Regions from separate parts of the Homo sapiens genome. Here region 2 is linked to region 1. The links come from fine-mapping of genetic effects on gene expression. A gene starts in region 1. The other region holds a variant in brackets. All regions are shown on one strand. Distances are from middle to middle. Region 1 holds the start of LRRC36 (leucine rich repeat containing 36). Region 2 holds the start of RANBP10 (RAN binding protein 10).

The links. PIP is the estimated chance that this variant, and not a neighbour inherited with it, causes the effect.
Region 2: its variant is fine-mapped to the expression of LRRC36 in pancreas (GTEx, PIP above 0.99).

Annotation. Positions count from the first base shown.
Region 1 is chr16:67,323,163-67,331,490 of GRCh38, reverse strand. LRRC36 (leucine rich repeat containing 36) reads right to left here and starts at 4,676. Exons shown (of 14, transcript NM_018296.6): 1 at 4,559-4,676. The coding sequence starts at 4,628. It overlaps KCTD19 (potassium channel tetramerization domain containing 19), which reads left to right and starts at 4,750. Exons shown (of 16, transcript NM_001100915.3): 1 at 4,750-4,786. The coding sequence starts at 4,784. RefSeq lists a silencer at 4,634-4,783 and an enhancer at 6,539-6,618.
Region 2 is chr16:67,799,767-67,808,094 of GRCh38, reverse strand. It overlaps RANBP10 (RAN binding protein 10), which reads left to right and starts at 1,535. Exons shown (of 14, transcript NM_020850.3): 1 at 1,535-1,793; 2 at 2,556-2,667. The coding sequence starts at 1,559. It overlaps TSNAXIP1 (translin associated factor X interacting protein 1), which reads right to left and starts at 1,206. Exons shown (of 16, transcript NM_001288990.3): 1 at 899-1,206. The coding sequence starts at 945. RefSeq lists silencers at 977-1,096, 1,597-1,816 and enhancers at 1,237-1,466, 1,172-1,791, 1,792-2,412, 5,867-5,946. The variant G/A (reference allele first, on the strand shown) is at 5,203.

The DNA of each region.
Region 1 (8,328 bases):
GGCAGTAGCACTATCATAGTGCACTGCAGCCTAAAACTCCTGGGGTCAGAGGATCCTTCCACTTCAGCCTCCTGAGTAGCTGGGACTACAGGTACACACCACCAACACCCAGTTAATTTTTAAATTTTTTGTAGAGACAGGATCTTGCTGTGTTGCCCAGGCTGGTCTCAAATACCTGGCCTCATCCTCCTCCCTGGCCTTCCAAAGTGTGTAAGCCGCCATGCCCAGCTTTCATGTTGAAACGTAATTGCCAATGTAACAGCACTGCGAGGTGGGGCCTCTAAGAGGTGATTAGGTCAACGGTGGCTTCATGCTGTTATCATGGAGTTAGTTATCACGGGAGTTAGCTATCCTAATAAAGGAATTAGTTCAGTCTTCTCTCTCTCTCTCTCTCTCTCTCTCTCTCTCTCTCTCTCTCTCTTTCTCTCTCACATCTCACACATGCACCTTCTGCCCTTCCACCATGGAATGACCCTCACCAGATGTTGGCACCATGCTCTTGGACTTCTCAGCCTCCAGAACCATGAGCCAAATCAACTTCTGTTCTTTATAAATTACCTAGTCTATGGTATTCTGTTATGACAAGAGAAAAGGGACTAAGACATTTATTTATTTATTTATTTATTTAGACTGAGTCTCAGTCTTTCGTCCAGGCTGAAGTGCAGTGGTGCGATCTCAGTTCACTGCAACCTCTGCTTCCCAGGCTCAAGTGATTCTCCTGCCTCAGCCTCCTGAGTAGCTGGGATTATAGGCACCTGCCACCATGCCGGGCTAATTTTTTTTGTATTTTTAGTACAGATGAGGTTTCACCATGTTGGACAGACTGGTCTTGAACTCCTGACCTCAGGTGATCCATCCTCCTTGGCCTCCCAAAATGCTGGGATTACAGGCGTGAACGACCATGCCCAGCCCTAAGACATATATTTAAATCGATGAGTTTATAATGATACTGAGAAAGCAAAACAGTCCTCACTGGTCACCTTTGGAGAATGCTAAGAAAATAACTCATCATTCTGAAAGCTGGCATATAAGGTGAAAACAAATCAAGCTTTTATGCTGCCTTTCCTATACAAACTGTACCTCAGGATAAGCAAACAGTTGATGTGAGGAAATTTCTCTTTATAGAAGTATTACAGTTAATGAAGAAAAATGAAAGAAATAGACAATTACCATTTTGCAATCCCTAATGAATTAACTTAGGTAATCATATTCAGTGGCTGATATCACGAAAAGAAAGAACACTAGGCACCATATACTTCCTAACATAAACATACACCATTACCTATGAAATCGTCTTGTGAAAAAAAAAAAATCCAACCTGAATCTGATTAAGCCTCATCTAACTACCAATTCATAGGAAGTACAGGGAACACGGGAAAATGTTTAACATCTTAGGAATGCAATGAGCAAAGTTCAGGTTATAGTAAACTCTTTCAAAGCCAGTTTCTTCAAAAACAATTGAAAATGCGAGGGAAAAAAAATGGGGAGCCTACAGATCAAATAAGACTTAAGACATACATCAACCAATTGCAATATATGGACCATATACGGATTCTTATTTTATTTTATTTTTTAGATGGAGACTTGCTCTGCCACCCAAGCTGGAGTGCAGTGACGCGATCTCAGCTCACTACAACCTCCGTCTCCCGGGTTCAAGCGATTCTCCTGCCTCAGCCTCCCAAGTAGTTGGGATTACAGGTGTGAGCCACCATGTCCAGCTAATTTTTGTATTTTTAATAGAGATGGGGTTTCACCATGTTGGCCTGGCTGGTCTTGAACTCCTGGCCTCAAGTGATCCACCCACCTTGGCCTCCCAAAGTGCTGGGATTACAGGCATGAGCCAACGCACCCGGCCATGGATTCTAATTTTAAAAAATTATAGGACAACTGGGGAAATAAGAACACTAGTTAGATATTTCATGATATCAAGAAATCACTGTTCACTTTAGGAGGCTGAGTCACTTGAGGTCAGGAGTTCAAGACTAGCCTGGCTAGCATGGTGAAACCCCGTCTCTACTAAAAATACAAAAAAATTAGCCAGGCATGGTGGCACATGCCTGAAATCCCAGCTACTCAGGAAGCTGAGGCAGGAGAATTGCTTGAACCCTGGAGGCAGAGGTTGCAGTGAGCTGAGATCATGCCACTGCACTCCAGCCTGGGCAACAGAGCCAGACTCCATCTCAAAAACAAAACAAAACCAAAAAAAGAAATTACTGTTAAATTTTTTAGGTTGCATATGTGACTTTTTTTTAAAGTAATCTTAGCTTTTAAAAATACATACTGGCCAGGTGCTGTGGCTTGCACTTATAATCCCAACTCTTAGGGAGGCTGAGGTGGGTGGATCACTTGAGGTCAGGAGTTCAAGACCAGCTTGGCCAACATGGCAAAACCCTGTCACTACTGAAAATACAAAATTAGCCGGGCGTGGTGGCGGGTGCCTGTAGTCCCAGCTACTTGGGAGGCTGAGGCAGAAGAATCGCTTGAAATGCGGAGGTGGAGATTACAGTGAGCCGAGATCACGCCACTGCCCTAGAGCCTGGGTGACAGAGCAAAACTCTATCTGAAAAATAATAAAAACAATAAATAAATAAAATACTACTGAAATATTTATGGAGGAAATCACATACTTGGAATTTGCTTCAAAATAGTCAGTGTAGGGGGTTGGAGGTGGGTGGAGGATAGGTGAGGTATACGTGAAAGAAGCTTGGCCATGAATTGATGATAACTGTTGAGGTAGGCTAATAGAGTTCATTATTCTGTTATCTCTACTCTTGTATATATTTGAAAATTGCCATAATATAAAATTATAAAATAAGTGATAAATGCTTATATATGTAGAGAATATTTCTGGAAAACTATCCAAGATACTGGTAACAGTAATTGCCTTTAGGAAGGGGAACTAGGCCTATGAGACGGGGATGGGGGAGTAAAGACTTTCTTCTCACTGTACAATTTTTATTTTATTTATTTATTTTTTCGAGACGGAGTCTCACTCTGTCACCCAGGCTGGAGTGCAGTGGCGCGATCTCGGCTCACTGCAAGCTCCGCCTCCTGGGTTCACGCCATTCTCCTGCCTCAGCCTCCCGAGTAGCTGGGACTACAGGCGCCCGCCACCATGCTCCGCTAATTTTTTTTGTATTTTTAGTAGAGACGGGGTTTCACTGTGTTAGCCAGGATGGTCTCGATCTCCTGACTCGTGATCCGCCCGCCTCGGCCTCCCAGAGTGCTGGGATTACAGTCGTGAGCCACCGCGCCTGGCCCTCACTGTACAATTATTATATTACCCACAGAATAAATTAATTGAATTATTTTAACAGTCAAAATGAGTAAATATTACATATTTCCCCCCTCTACCAAATTAATCATTAGACTACCGACATGCTCTAGTATATCCTTCCTGTTCTGTTCTTGACTGCACATCATACGCTTCAGCTACCATCTATTTCTGCAGTCTCTTTTACAGCTAAAATTTTCAGCAAAAGTTCTTACTTTCACTGTCTCTTCCCCTCAAATATCATTTCCCTTTTTCATCCCACTCCAATCTGGTTTCCCTCCTCCCCACCCTCCCAAAACTCCCTCTGTCAAGGTCACCAGTAAGTTCCATGTTGCTAAATCTAACAGACACTCTGCATTTAAGTTGCTCAGCCTGTCAATAGCATTTGGCACAGTTGGCCATTGCTTGCTCGATACACTACCCCTTCTCAAATTCCAAGATACCACATTCTTCCTCTATACAACCTCTAAACACTGAAATATTCCAAGGTTGAGTCTTAAGCTTTCTTTCACTTCTCCATCGACATTCTCTCCTTAGCTGAGTTCATCCACTCCCGTAGCTTTAAATACCACCTATTGCTAATGTCTCCAAAATTTTCATCTCTAACCCTGACCTCTCCTCTGAGGTCCAGACCCATATATCCAACTGCCTACTAGGTACCTTACACTTGGATGTCTAATAGACATTTTATTATTTATTTATTTTATTTATTATTATTATTTTTGAGATGGAGTCTCGCTCTGTCGCCCAGGCTGCAGTGCAGTGGTGCGATCTCGGCTAACTGCAACCTCCGCCTCCCGGGTTCAAGCGATTCTCCTGCCTCAGCCTCCCGAGTAGCTGGGATTATAGACTTGAACCACCACGCCGGGCTAATTTTTGTATTTTAGTAGAGACGGGGTTTCACCATGTTGGCCACGCTCAGGTGATCCACCCGCCTCCGCCTCCCAAAGTGCTGGGATTACAGCGGTCAGCCACCGCCCCCCGCAGTTCTGTCACCTGCGGCAGGGTCCCCTGTTAACCTTGTTTCTCCTTCCCTACTTCACACTCCCCTCTTCTCTCTCAATTCCTCGGGCTCTGCCCCACACCCTCCCGTTACTTCAGTTCCTCCACCTCCACCTCCCTCTAACCTTCTGCCTCAAGTTATCCCCCCGCCCCCCAGCCTCAGGTACCGCTTCTCTGTGGTTCCCTCGCCTCTATCTCAGGTTCCCCGCCTTCCACTTCAGTTTTCTTTCCACAGCTTCTGACCCTACGTTCCCAGTCCACACCCTCCCGGCCAGACCCTACCCGGCTGCTCCAGCGTCAGCGCCCCCAGGCGGCGAATGCCTTCCTCGTCCAGCTCCCATTGCTCCGCCATCCCCGCCCGCCGCTCACCTGCCACCGCCCGCGAGACCACCCGGCGCACGCCAGGCCCCGCCCACTGCCCCGCCCCCCGCGCGCGCGCCGCCGCGACCCCGGGAACCGTTATTGGCCGGGTCACAAGCCCGCCCGCCCGCTGCTGGAGCCGCGACCATGGTACGGAGCCCGCTCTGGCGGGGGCGCCAAAAGCACCAAAGCGGCGAATGGGGGCCGCTGTGGCCAAGGATTGGGGCTAAGTGGTTCGAGACCTGGCTCTGGGGCATGGGAGAGAGCGAGGGGCCCCCAGCCGGGAAGGATTTGGGGGGCTGGCTCTGAGGAGTTAGAATAACGCTCTGTCTTGAGGGATGAAGTGTTCTGGCTCTGAGGATGTGGGGGACTCCGGTTCTGAGGGCTGGGCGTGTGCCCCTTTGACGGGGTGGTCTTCATATCTCAGCGCTGGGGGATGCTGACTTTGGGGCAAGGCGAGGGTGTGTGTGAAGGGGAGATCCAAATCTGAAGGATTGGAGCGTGGGGACAGAACTCTAAGGCATGATGGGGAGCTCCAGATCTGAAAGGTTGGGAATCCTGGCTCTGAGGAGTTGGGGTCCTGTCTTTAGAGCATGAGGAAGTTCTAGCTCTAGAAATTGACTTGGACGGGCTGGGCGCGGTGTCTCACGCCTGTAATCCCAGCACTTTGGGAGCCCGAGGTGGGCGGATCACCTGAGGTCAAGAGTTCAAGACCAGCCTGGCCAACATGGTGAAACCCCATCTCTACTAAAAATACAAAAATTAGCCGGGTGTGGTGGCACGGCCTGTAGTCCCAGCTACTCGGGAGGCTGAGGCAGGAGAATCGCTTGAACCCGGGAGGTGGAGGTTGCAGTGAACCGAGATTGCACCACTGCACTCCAGCCTGGGCGACCTGAGTGACAGAGCCAGACCTTGTCTCAAAAAAAAAAAAAAAAAAAAGGTAAGAAATTTACTTGGACGGAGCTTCTTCGGGGGAGAAGGATCAGCGTGGGAAAGAGAGAAGCTCTTTGTAATGGGGTGGGGATGACTGCTTTAGGGCTACCCCGTTTCCTGAAGTCAGTCCGGCAAGAAGCCTTTTGTCTTTCAAGCACCACAGGTTCCCCTAAGCTTGCCTGTGACTGAGGGCTGTCGCCAGGCTGCGATAGCTCTGCACTAACCAGCCCCTGAGTAGTCTTTGGGAAAGAACAGCCGCATCCCTAACCCCTACCCTCACTCCAGCAGGCACTTAAGAGCCCACCTGTGGATGGGACATGTATGTAAGAAGGAGCCAGGACCCTCTTGTCACACCCTATCCTTAACAAGAAAAGAGGGTGGGCTGGGCGTGGTGGCTCACGTCTGTAATCCCAGCACTTTGGGAGGCCGAAGCATGTGGATCACGAGGTCAGGAGATCGAGACCATCCTGGCTAACACAGTGAAACCCCATCTCTACTAAAAATACAAAAATAAAACAAAATAAAATAAAATAAAATAAAATAAAGCCGGGCGTGGTGGCGGGCGCCTGTAGTCCCAGCTACTTGAGGAGGCTGGAGGCTGAGGCAGGAGAATGGCGTAAACCCGGGAGGTGGAGCTTGCAGTGAGCCAAAATCGTGCCACTGCACTCCAGCCTGGGCTAGAGAGCGAGACTCCGTCTCAAAAAAAAAAAAAAAGAAAAAAAGAAAAAAAGAAAAAAAAGAAAGAAAGAAAAGAGGAACTGAGACCAGAACTGGGGCTCACCTTCGAGAAGTAGGTTTTCTTTGGCATCCAACATCTGCACACTCTGAGCACCCCCATTGAGCTCTCAGCCACCTTTAAGGAGAACAGAAAGCAGAATCAAGGGTCCTTCCTTGCATATTTATGCTTTCTGGTCTATGTGAGACCCTTAGTCACTCCATTTGTTACATTCAGCCTTTGCCTGAACATGAACTTGTAGAAAGGCTTTTAGAAGGGCTGGGACTTAGAATTCTAGGTTAGCTCATTAGATTGACTTTTCTGGCTCTGCTTCTGTCAGTTATGCAATCATTTCACAATTTGTCATATTTCTCTTATTACCCCCTTTAACTCTTCTAGTCTCAAATGTGGCATATATAATTGCTCTTCTTTATGTCTGAATATTGCTGTGGGAGAGATGGACCCCATCCCATTCTTTCTTGCATGCATTTATTTTCCTTCCTCAGCTGTCAGAATGGGAAATGCAGGTTCTTTCTGGAGCAGGGAGCTTTTCCTTTCTTAAGTAATCACCTCTTACTTTAACACTGTTTTTCCCCCACGAACGTCTTAATGCAATTTTATAAACACAGAAAGATTGAAAGAATTGTACAGTGAGCACCATATATCCACCACCTGCATTCTACAATCAACATTTTGCTCATATTTGTTTTATCACATGTCCATCTAGCAATCCTATCTGTCCATCAATCTGTCTTTTTTAAATTCATCTCAAAATAAATTGCAGATATCAGTACATTGCAGTCCAATCACTTCAGCCTGCATAATTTTTAATTAGAATTCGATATTGTTTTATGGTTCTTTTTAGGTAAAATTCTATATACTATTTACTACCCTTTAAAAAATATTTTTACAAGGGTAGTGCCCTTTATTTTAAAATTTGATATGGATGGTTTGTATGTTTGATGGCTCTCTACTTTTCCATCGTATTGATAAACTAGGTCATCTTGAAACAAAGAAGACAATTCACTTATAAATAGATGACCTTAAACTTTTTTTTCAACAACCTCTTGTCCAACAGATGTACAGATGACCTTAAACTTTTTTTTCAACAACCTCTTGTCCAACAGATATACAGATGACCTTAAACTTTTAACAATGAGCTGAGGAAGGTTAGTGATCTTTGCTGCCTTTGTATATATGAAAAGGTATCTATAGCATTCATCCTCCAGTAATGTAATGTCTCTGCAGGTAAGATCCCAAGAGAGTTCTGCATGCGCTCCATGGAATGGACAGTACCTCATCTTTTTTTTTTTTTGTAGATCTATTGAGATATAATTCACATACCATACAATTCACACATTTTAATGTGTACAATTCAGTGAGTTTTAGTATGTTCAGAGTTGTGCAACTATCATCACAATCAATTTTAGAACATTTTCACCATCCCCAAAAGAAATCCCATACTCATTAGTAGTCACACCCCATCTCCCCATAGCCTCTCCAGCCCTAGGCAACCACTAATCTATTTTCTATCTCTAGAAATTTGCCTTGTCCACACATTGCATGTGGATGGAATCATATGTGATTTTTTGTTTGGCTTCTTTCCCTTGGCATAATGTTTCGAATTTCATCCATGTTGTTATCATGTATCAGTACTTCATTCCTTTTTATTTTTTATTTTTTTAGAGACGTGCCTCACTCTGACGCCCAGGCTGGAGTGCAATGGCACGATCACAGCTCACTGCAGCCTCAAACTCCTGGGCTCAAGTGAATCTCCTGCCTCAGCCTTCCAAAGTGCTGGGATTACAAGCACAAGCCACCATGTTCATCCCATTCCTTCGTATTGACAAACAATATTCCATTGTGTGGATATACTACATTTTGTTTACTCATCTGTCAGTTGATGGACATTAGGTTTATTCCAACCTTTTGGCTATTATGTTCTATGAACATTAGTCTAGAAATTTTGGTGTGGACATATGTCTTTATTTGTCTTAAGTGTACACCTAGGAGTGGAATTGCTGGCTCATAGTAGAATAACTCC
Region 2 (8,328 bases), 480 kb before region 1:
AACAATGTTTGTGGGGTGGGCTGTATCATTCCCATGTTTGAGATATATAAGCTGAGGCCTGGAACTTGAAGGGCCCTGTCTGAAGTCCCAAAACTAGAAAACGATTTAGCCAAAATTTTTGTTTTAATCCGTATGTATGGCTCTCCAGGCTGATGGAGCTGGTCATATTTTGCAGTACCCAGAGGCTATACACCTGAGTACAGGCAGAAGCTACCCAGAGGATGATCTCTCCAGGCTTCTAAAGTATTTCTTTACTTGTTCAATGGTAATATTACTACTTTATACAGTTGTTGTGAGGATTAAATATGGTACGTAGGCCGGGTGTGGGGGTTCACGCTTGTAATCCCAGTTTGAGAGGTCGAAGTGGGAGGGTCGCTTGAGTCTAGGAGTTCGAAACCAGCCTGGGCAACGTGGTGAAACCTCGTCTCTACAAAAAACAAACGAACAAAGAAACACCCAAAAATTAGCCAAGCGTAGTGGCGCATGCCTGTAGTCCCAGCTACTCGGGAGGCTGAGGTAGAAGGATCGCTTGAGCCCGGGAGGTCGAGGCTGCAGTGAGCCGTAGTAGTGCCACTGCACTCCAGCCTGGGCGACAGAACGAGATCTTGTCTCAAAAATAAAATATTTAAAAATGTGGTATATAAAGCATTTGGCATATAGTACATTCAATACAAGCTGGTTGTTACTAGTAATGATAAAGTGCGCCTACCGTTTTGCTAGCACGTAACGTCTTCACTGGGCTAAATCAGCCCGATTCTAACCATTGACTCTGTGGTGCTGGAGCCCTAGATCAATGGTCAGAGGCCAGCAGGAGGTGCAGAGGTCCGGATCAAGTGCCATTTCCCTCTCTAGAAGTACTCAAACCCTCATCTCTGCCCTCATCCCTGCCAGCGCCTACCTCGACGCGGACGAGAAGCTGTGGTACCGCGACTGCTGGCAGGCCATGACCCACGGGCAGGCGGGCAATCAGCACCCGCGGCCTGGGAAGCTGTGGTAGCGTACAGCCGGTCGCCATGGCGACCAGGCCCCAGAGGCCCCCCCGCGGCGGGGGCGGAGTCAGGGATGCGCCACGCCCCCGAGCCTAGCGCCCGCGGGCTGGGAGTAGGACAAAGTAGCAAAGGTGGACTGGGACCCGGCAGCGGGTGCCCTGAGAGTCAACCACTACAGCCGATTTGACCCCAGGTACCAGAACTGAGGCAGGGGGATGAACAGAGGCCATGGGGAGGGAAGTGTGCTGAGAGGCCGGAGCCGCTTTGCCGGCGGGAATGGTAGTTTTCGGTGTCCCGACGTCTCGATGGGACAGGCTTATGGCTGAGGACGGTTATACTACATCTCCCAGAATTCTCTACCAGCCCGAGTTGCTCCGCCTCTCGAGAGCTCTGCATTGTGGGGTATGGAGTTCGAAATGTGGTAAGGCGTGTCAGTGTCCAAAGAGGGGTGCCGGACTCGGACTCGGTTTCCCTGCGGCCCAGGGAGGCTCACGGGCCATTGGCTGAGCGGGGCGGATCTGGTCCCGCTCCTCCCCGCCCCCAGTGACACAATAGTAGCTCCCTCCAAGATGGCGGCAGCGACGGCAGACCCGGGAGCTGGGAACCCGCAGCCTGGGGACTCCTCCGGCGGGGGCGCTGGGGGCGGGCTGCCGTCCCCTGGGGAGCAGGAGCTGAGCCGGCGCTTGCAGCGCCTGTATCCCGCGGTCAACCAGCAAGAGACTCCGCTGCCGCGCTCCTGGAGCCCCAAGGACAAATACAACTACATTGGTCTCTCCCAGGGCAACCTCCGCGTCCACTACAAAGGTATCGGCCCGTCAGGCTGGGGGGAATTAAGGCTAGAGCGTCCGTGGGGTGGCTCTGCTGCCAGGCCCCCGCCCTATCACCTCCCTTTCCCTGCCTAGGTGCTCCAAGTTAGGGCTTGGCCCTTTCAGGATGTCCAGGGTGGTGAGGCTGAACAGGCCGAGGGCTGACTGCCTGTTCTCTGTCCTGAGACACCTGCCGTCAAGAGAACCGCAACAGGTGTCCAAACCCAGTGCTGGGCCGGACCTTCCACTCCAGGGCCTCCGTGCTTATCCTAGGCTGGCGCCAACGGCAGCGGGACCTTTCGCCACTGCTTAGAAGAAAGGGGTGGTCACATACCTACCATTAGCGTGAGACTCATGGGCTTCCCCACCTGCCAGGCATCCTAGACTGAGCCTGGGGTTCCGTGCTAGAGTTTGGGGGGTGTCTTCCAGGTCGGCCTCATCCTTCTTCCCCTGGCCTCCCAGGTGGGCTGCCTGGATTCTAGAGAGGCTGCCAGCAGCACTTGAGTATCTCTCACATTGCCTCTACCCTTGTTTTGTTTGTATGGGCAGTGTCTCAGGCAGGACTGCTGTTCTCAGGAGGAGGTGAGGCAAAGGTGGAAGGTTTAAGTGTTTATTCAGTTGTCTAATGATTCCTCGGCCTGTGTAAGTGCGTCCTCTGGCCACAGAGGAGTGGAGTTGTCATGGAGGAGTTGCAGAGAAAAATGAGGCTTCCATTTGCATTTCCTTCTGCTGAAATTTCTTACTTGCCCTCTCCTGTTAGGTCATGGCAAAAATCACAAAGATGCGGCCTCAGTGCGTGCCACCCACCCCATACCTGCTGCCTGTGGCATTTATTACTTTGAAGTGAAGATTGTCAGCAAAGGAAGAGATGGGTAAGCCCTTCATGACCACCCTCTTTCCCTGATCATGGAGCTGATCCCTGTGGTCAGAGTTCAGGTCCTTTGGCTGGCACTTGTTGCTGATGTGAGCTGGGGAGCCGCATGGGTCTGGGCTGCCATTATTTCCTGACTGTGGGCATGGTCTGGTCTAAGCAGCAGATCTTGATGGCCAGTGGGTGTGTTGGGGGTAAAGCAGGGATTATTTTTAGTGATGATGTAATTTGATACCTAGAAGGTTAGGCAAACAAGTAACAAGTTTACTTTAAAAATTTAGTGTCCAGAATGGAGTTTCCCTCATGAGCATGTGGTGTTTTTGTGACTTCCTTCCTTTCACATTCTTGCTGTATTCATGAGGTTCTTTTTTATGGCATTTAGTCATGTGGAGGCCCTGGTAGCCTTCAAAGAGATAGTAGAGTCTTTGCAGCATTCATGAAAGCTTCTGTGGCCACCGGCCTGTCATCTCAGGGTAAACAGCATACACATGATCAGAATCAGGTGACCTTGCTGCTCATAAACTTGTTTTTCAGTCCAAGGACTTGAACACTACTAGTTGGATCAACTTTAGGAAGGTCCTCATTAAAGTCAGCATTAGGAGCCAGGCACGGTGGCTCACGCCTGTAATCCCAGCAATTTGGGAGGCTAAGATGGGCAGATCACCTGAGGTCAGGAGTTGGAGACTAGCCTGGCAAACATGCTGAAACCCTGTCTCTACTAAAAATACAAAAAAATTAACTGGCATACCTGTAATCCTATCACTTCAGAAGACCGAGGCGGGCGGATCACTTGAGATCAGGAGTTCAAGACCAGCCTGGCCAGCATGGTAAAACCCCATCTCTAAAAAAAAATTCAAAAATTAGCTGGGTGTGGTGGTGTGCACCTGTAATCCCAGCTACTTGGGAGGCTGAGGCATGAAAATCACTTGAACATGGGAGGTGGAGGTTGTAGTGAGCTGAGATTGCACCACTGCACTCTAGCCTGGGCAATAGAGTGAGACTCTGTCCCAAAACCAAACAAAAAAAAAAGTCAGCATTAGGGAGACTCCCTATTTTAGGATGATCCAAGCAGACACAGGAAATCATAGGGGAGATACTTAATTTTTTTTCTTTCTCCCAGTCTCCCTTTTTTTCCCAGTGATTGTGACGAAGCAGGTGTGTAAGTTATGAAGTAACATGACTGCAGCTACCTTGGAAAGGCTTTCCTCATCAGACTTTAGGTTTGGTGTCTGAAGTTTGCCAACCCCTCTGGTGACCATGCCAACGCTGAGGGTGTGTTCTCGAACATTCAGAACTTCTTTCTCCTAGGGACTGTCCCCTTTGTAGTGCATGCAAAATGCTTGGCCAAGGGACTAGGCTGGGGGCAACACTGCCAGAGTCAGAGCCTTGCCTACTTCCTCAGTGATGTAACTTCTCTGCCTGAGAGGTCTCTGTGGTCTTGGGTAGATGTTGGAGCTTCAGTCTCCTGATCTGCACTGTGAGGATCCAGGCCAGCATCTAAGCTGCCTGAACTCCAGAATTCTATGCCTCTGAAATTCTGATCATGGGAAGCTGCTGTATCTTTCTCTCTCTCTCTCTTTTTTTTTTTTTTTTTTTTTAATGAGATGGGGTCTTGCTCTGTCTCCCACGCTGAAGTGCAGTGGCAAGATCACAATCACAGCTCACTGCAGCCTCGACCTTCTGGGCTCGAGTTATCCTCCCACCTCAGCCTCCTGAGTAACTGGGAATACAGGTGCATGCCACCACGCCTGGCTAATTTTTTTTTTTTTTTTTTTTTTGAGACGGAGTTTTGCTCCTGTTGCCCAGGCTGGAGTGCAATGGCGCAATCTCAGCTCACCACAACCTCCGCCTCCCAGGTTCAAGTAATTCTCCTGCCTCAGCCTCCTGAGTAGCTGGGCTTACAGGCATGTGCCACCACACCAGGCTAATTTTGTATTTTTAGTAGAGATGGGGTTTCTCCATGTTGGTCAGGCTGGTCTCAAACTCCTGACCTCAGGTGATTCGCCTGCCTTGGCCTCCCAAAGTGCTGGGATTACAGGTGTGGGCCACCGCACCCAGCCTAATTTTTTAAATTATTTGTAGAGATGAGGTCTTGCTATGTTGCCCAGGCTGGTCTCTAGTGATCCTCCCACCTTGGCCTCTCAAACTGCTGGGACTACAGGCATGAGCTACTGCACCCGGCCATCTTTCATTTTTATCCCCATCTAGTGCGTTTACAGACAGGAAAGTTAAATTTATGGGAGGGCTTCAAAGCTCCTATTTTCACCTTCCACCGTCTGATAGAAGCACATATATTTAGTGTGCTTGAACTAGTGTGAATGAGAATAGCCCCTTAAAACAAGCACCTTGAAAATAATGTTGACTAAAATGGTGGTGCTGGAGTCTCATACTGCCACAGAAACTGAAGTGCACTTCTTAAATTTGTAGGGAGGAAAATGGATTGTTTTCTCCTAGTCTTTATCATAGATAACAGCTGAGTTAGTTATCTAGGTAGAGAGCAGAGACCAACTTCAGAAGGGAAGTGTTTACACTTAGA[G/A]ACCTGGATTCTTTTTTTCTTTTTGTATTTTTTGAGAGATGAGGTCTGGCTATGTTGGAGATCTGGATTCTTTCAACTGGTTTTAACATTTCAGTTTTAGTCGATCTTGCTGTGTCATGTTAGATTGGTGAACTATAGGTGTTGACTGGAAGTCTAAAGAAAGGTGGGCATCTATTCCCAGCATTTTACATGTGGTAAACATGGCTGTTGAGCTGATCTGGAAACATCAGATGTTAATTAATTAATTTATTTATTTGCCACACAGTCTCCTTTATCATCCAGGCTGGAGTGCATTGACTCAATCTCGGCTCATTGCAACCTCTACTTTCTGGGTTCAAGTGATTCTCCTGCCTCAGCCTCCCGAGTAGCTGGGATTACAGGCATACGCCACCACGCCTGGCTAATTTTTGTATTTTTAGTAGAGATGGGGTTTCGCCATGTTGGCCAGGCTGGTTTCGAACTCCTGACCTCAGGTGATTCACCTGCGTCAGTCTCCCAAAGTGCTAAGATTACAGGCATGAGCCATGGTGCCCAGCAAGGAAACATCAGTTTTAGAAAGGTCTCAGGTCATGTATACCTGTGGTATCCTGCTTCAGTTGACCACTGTCAGATGGCAAGAGTATGAATAGCTCCTCATGGTCTCTTTATGGAATCCCTGAAAGCCTTCCCATGGCTGGGATGCAGCCACATGTTAGTATGGGCCAGGTGGGTTTTGAGGAGGCCAAAGGCAGTTACACAGGGCAGGCAGACATCAACTGGCTCATTTCCCTTTTTTTGTAGATTTTTTTTTTTTTTTTTGAGGCAGGGTCTCGCTCTGTTGCTCAGGCTGGAGTGCAATGGCATGATCACAGCTCACCGCCACCTCAACTTCCTGGGCTCAGTCAATCCTCCCACCTCAGCTTCCTGAGTAGCTGGGACTATAGGTGTGTGCCATCATGCTTGGCTCATTTTCTTATTTTTTGTAGAGATGGGGTCTCACAATGTTTCCTAGGCTGGTCTTGAATTCCTGGGCTCAAGTATTTCTTCCACCTCAGCCTTCCAAAGTGCTGGGATTATAGTCATGAGCCACCATGCCCAGCTGATTTTTTTTTTAACTATTTTATAGAGATGGGATCTTGCTGTGTTGTCTAGGCTGGTCTCCAACTCCTAGCCTCAAGTGATCCTCCTGCCTCAAAGTGATCCAAAGTGCTGGGATTGCAGGCAGGAGCCACCATTGTCAGCCTCCCATGGATTTTGGAGGTGTGTTTTTTATCCTGGTTTAGTCCATGACCCAAGCATTAACTGGTTGTCTAGCTTTCCTGTGTTACCTAGTTTGATCCTCACAGCATCTCTGGCAAGTGGCTAGAGCAGGTGATCATCTACCTTCCCATTTTGTGAGTGAGCCCTGAGTCCCTGGGATGTTTGGTGGCCTACCCTGGCTGCAGGGCTTAGGGTGTGCAGTGGAGTAGCCTGACTTATCAGATGTCCTCGCCTGATCCTAGACACACATGTCCATGCTGCTGCTGCCTTTCCCCATTGTAGCTGTTGCATTTCTTCCCTGGGTAGAGTGAAGGAATGTTCTGTTGGATTCCTACCAGATTGCAATGTTAGGGGACAGAGCTGAAAGGTGCATGGTGCTGTGTAGGGCCAGAGAATTGTGGCATGCTCTGGGCCGGGCTTGATCAACTTACTGTTCCATTTAATCTGTAAACTTGCTTTTCTGTAGATTTGAGTACACCTCCTTTGTAAAAGGTATTTATAAACCCAGTTGTTAGTGTCATTGTTCTCCAGAACGTCCTTTGTTTTGACAATATCTTTTGGAGAAGAACACACTAAGCTAGTCTAATAAGGAAAGTTTCATGTCAAGATTTCACAGAATATTTATATATACCTACTATGTTCCAGGCCCTATACTAGGTATAGGGAGAACAGATGTAAAGCCAGCACAGATCAGCTTTGTCCTCAGGAAGCCTGTGGCCCATTCAGTAGAGAGTGGACTGAAAGTCTTTCTGCAAGAGGAGGCAGAGCCTGGGAACAGTTGGGAGGAATGAGTAGGAGTTCCCCAGTAGGCGAGACCTGTTAGACCTATGAGTCTGATGGGTAACTAGCTTGACTTCTGGGTGCTAGGCTTTCTGGGCACTCCTCAAGTATAAGAGAGCTCTGTGGAGTAGGAGGGGCTGTGTTTGAGCTAAGAGCTTGGCACAGACTGATGGGCTTCAACTGCATTTTGCCGAGTCACCAGAGCTGTGAACTCGGGGAGCGGGTCTGGTGGGGTGAGGAGACATCAGAGCACTGCCAGTGGTGCCAGGAGATAAGGGGCATCCAGGTCTGTCTTTCTAGGAAGCGAAGGAGGGCCTGAAGCTGAGGGTCCCTGGGGAGGAGCAATGTCTGCAGGCAGAGTTCATGGACCTGTGGGTGTCCCTGGCTCTTAGTGATGACACATGGAGGGTGTGGCTGGCTAGGCTGACAGATGCTCCAGTGTGACCCTCAAAATAGACTGTAACATCATCCCAGCGGCGGAGGCCTCCTGACATGTGATGGTTGCTTTACCCAAGAGTAGTAGGCCTGGGCTAGAGCACTGGAAGGCATGGAGAGGGGTGGGGGCATTTTCCTCTGTAGCCAGTGTCTGGGCCCAGGCCCAGAGCAGGGGTCTCTGACCACAGCCAGCCTTCCCTTGCTCCTGCAGCTGACTTCCTTTGGCCAGGCAGCAGTGCACTCATTCATTCATTCCAGACACCAGGGCGCAGTACCCATTGTTTTTTTTTTTTGGTTGTTGTTGTTGTTGTTGTTTTTGAAACAGAGTCTCGCTCTGTTGCCAGGCTGGAGTGCAGTGGCACAATCTTGGCTCACTGCAAACCTCCGCCTCCTGGGTTCAAGTGATTCCCCTGCCTCACCCTCCCGAGTAGCTGGGACTACAGGCGTGCACCACCATGCCCAGCTAGTTTTTGTATTTTTAGTAGAGACGGTGTTTCACCATGTTGGCCAGGATGTTCTAGATCTCTTGACCTCATGATCTGCCCTCCTCAGCCTCCCAAAGTGCTAGGATTACAGGTGTGAGCCATCACATCCATTGTTTTGTCCCAGCCTGGGCCCCAGGAGCACAGGCATGAGGCCCCACCGGTGGTGTCGAAGGGTCAGGCCACCGTA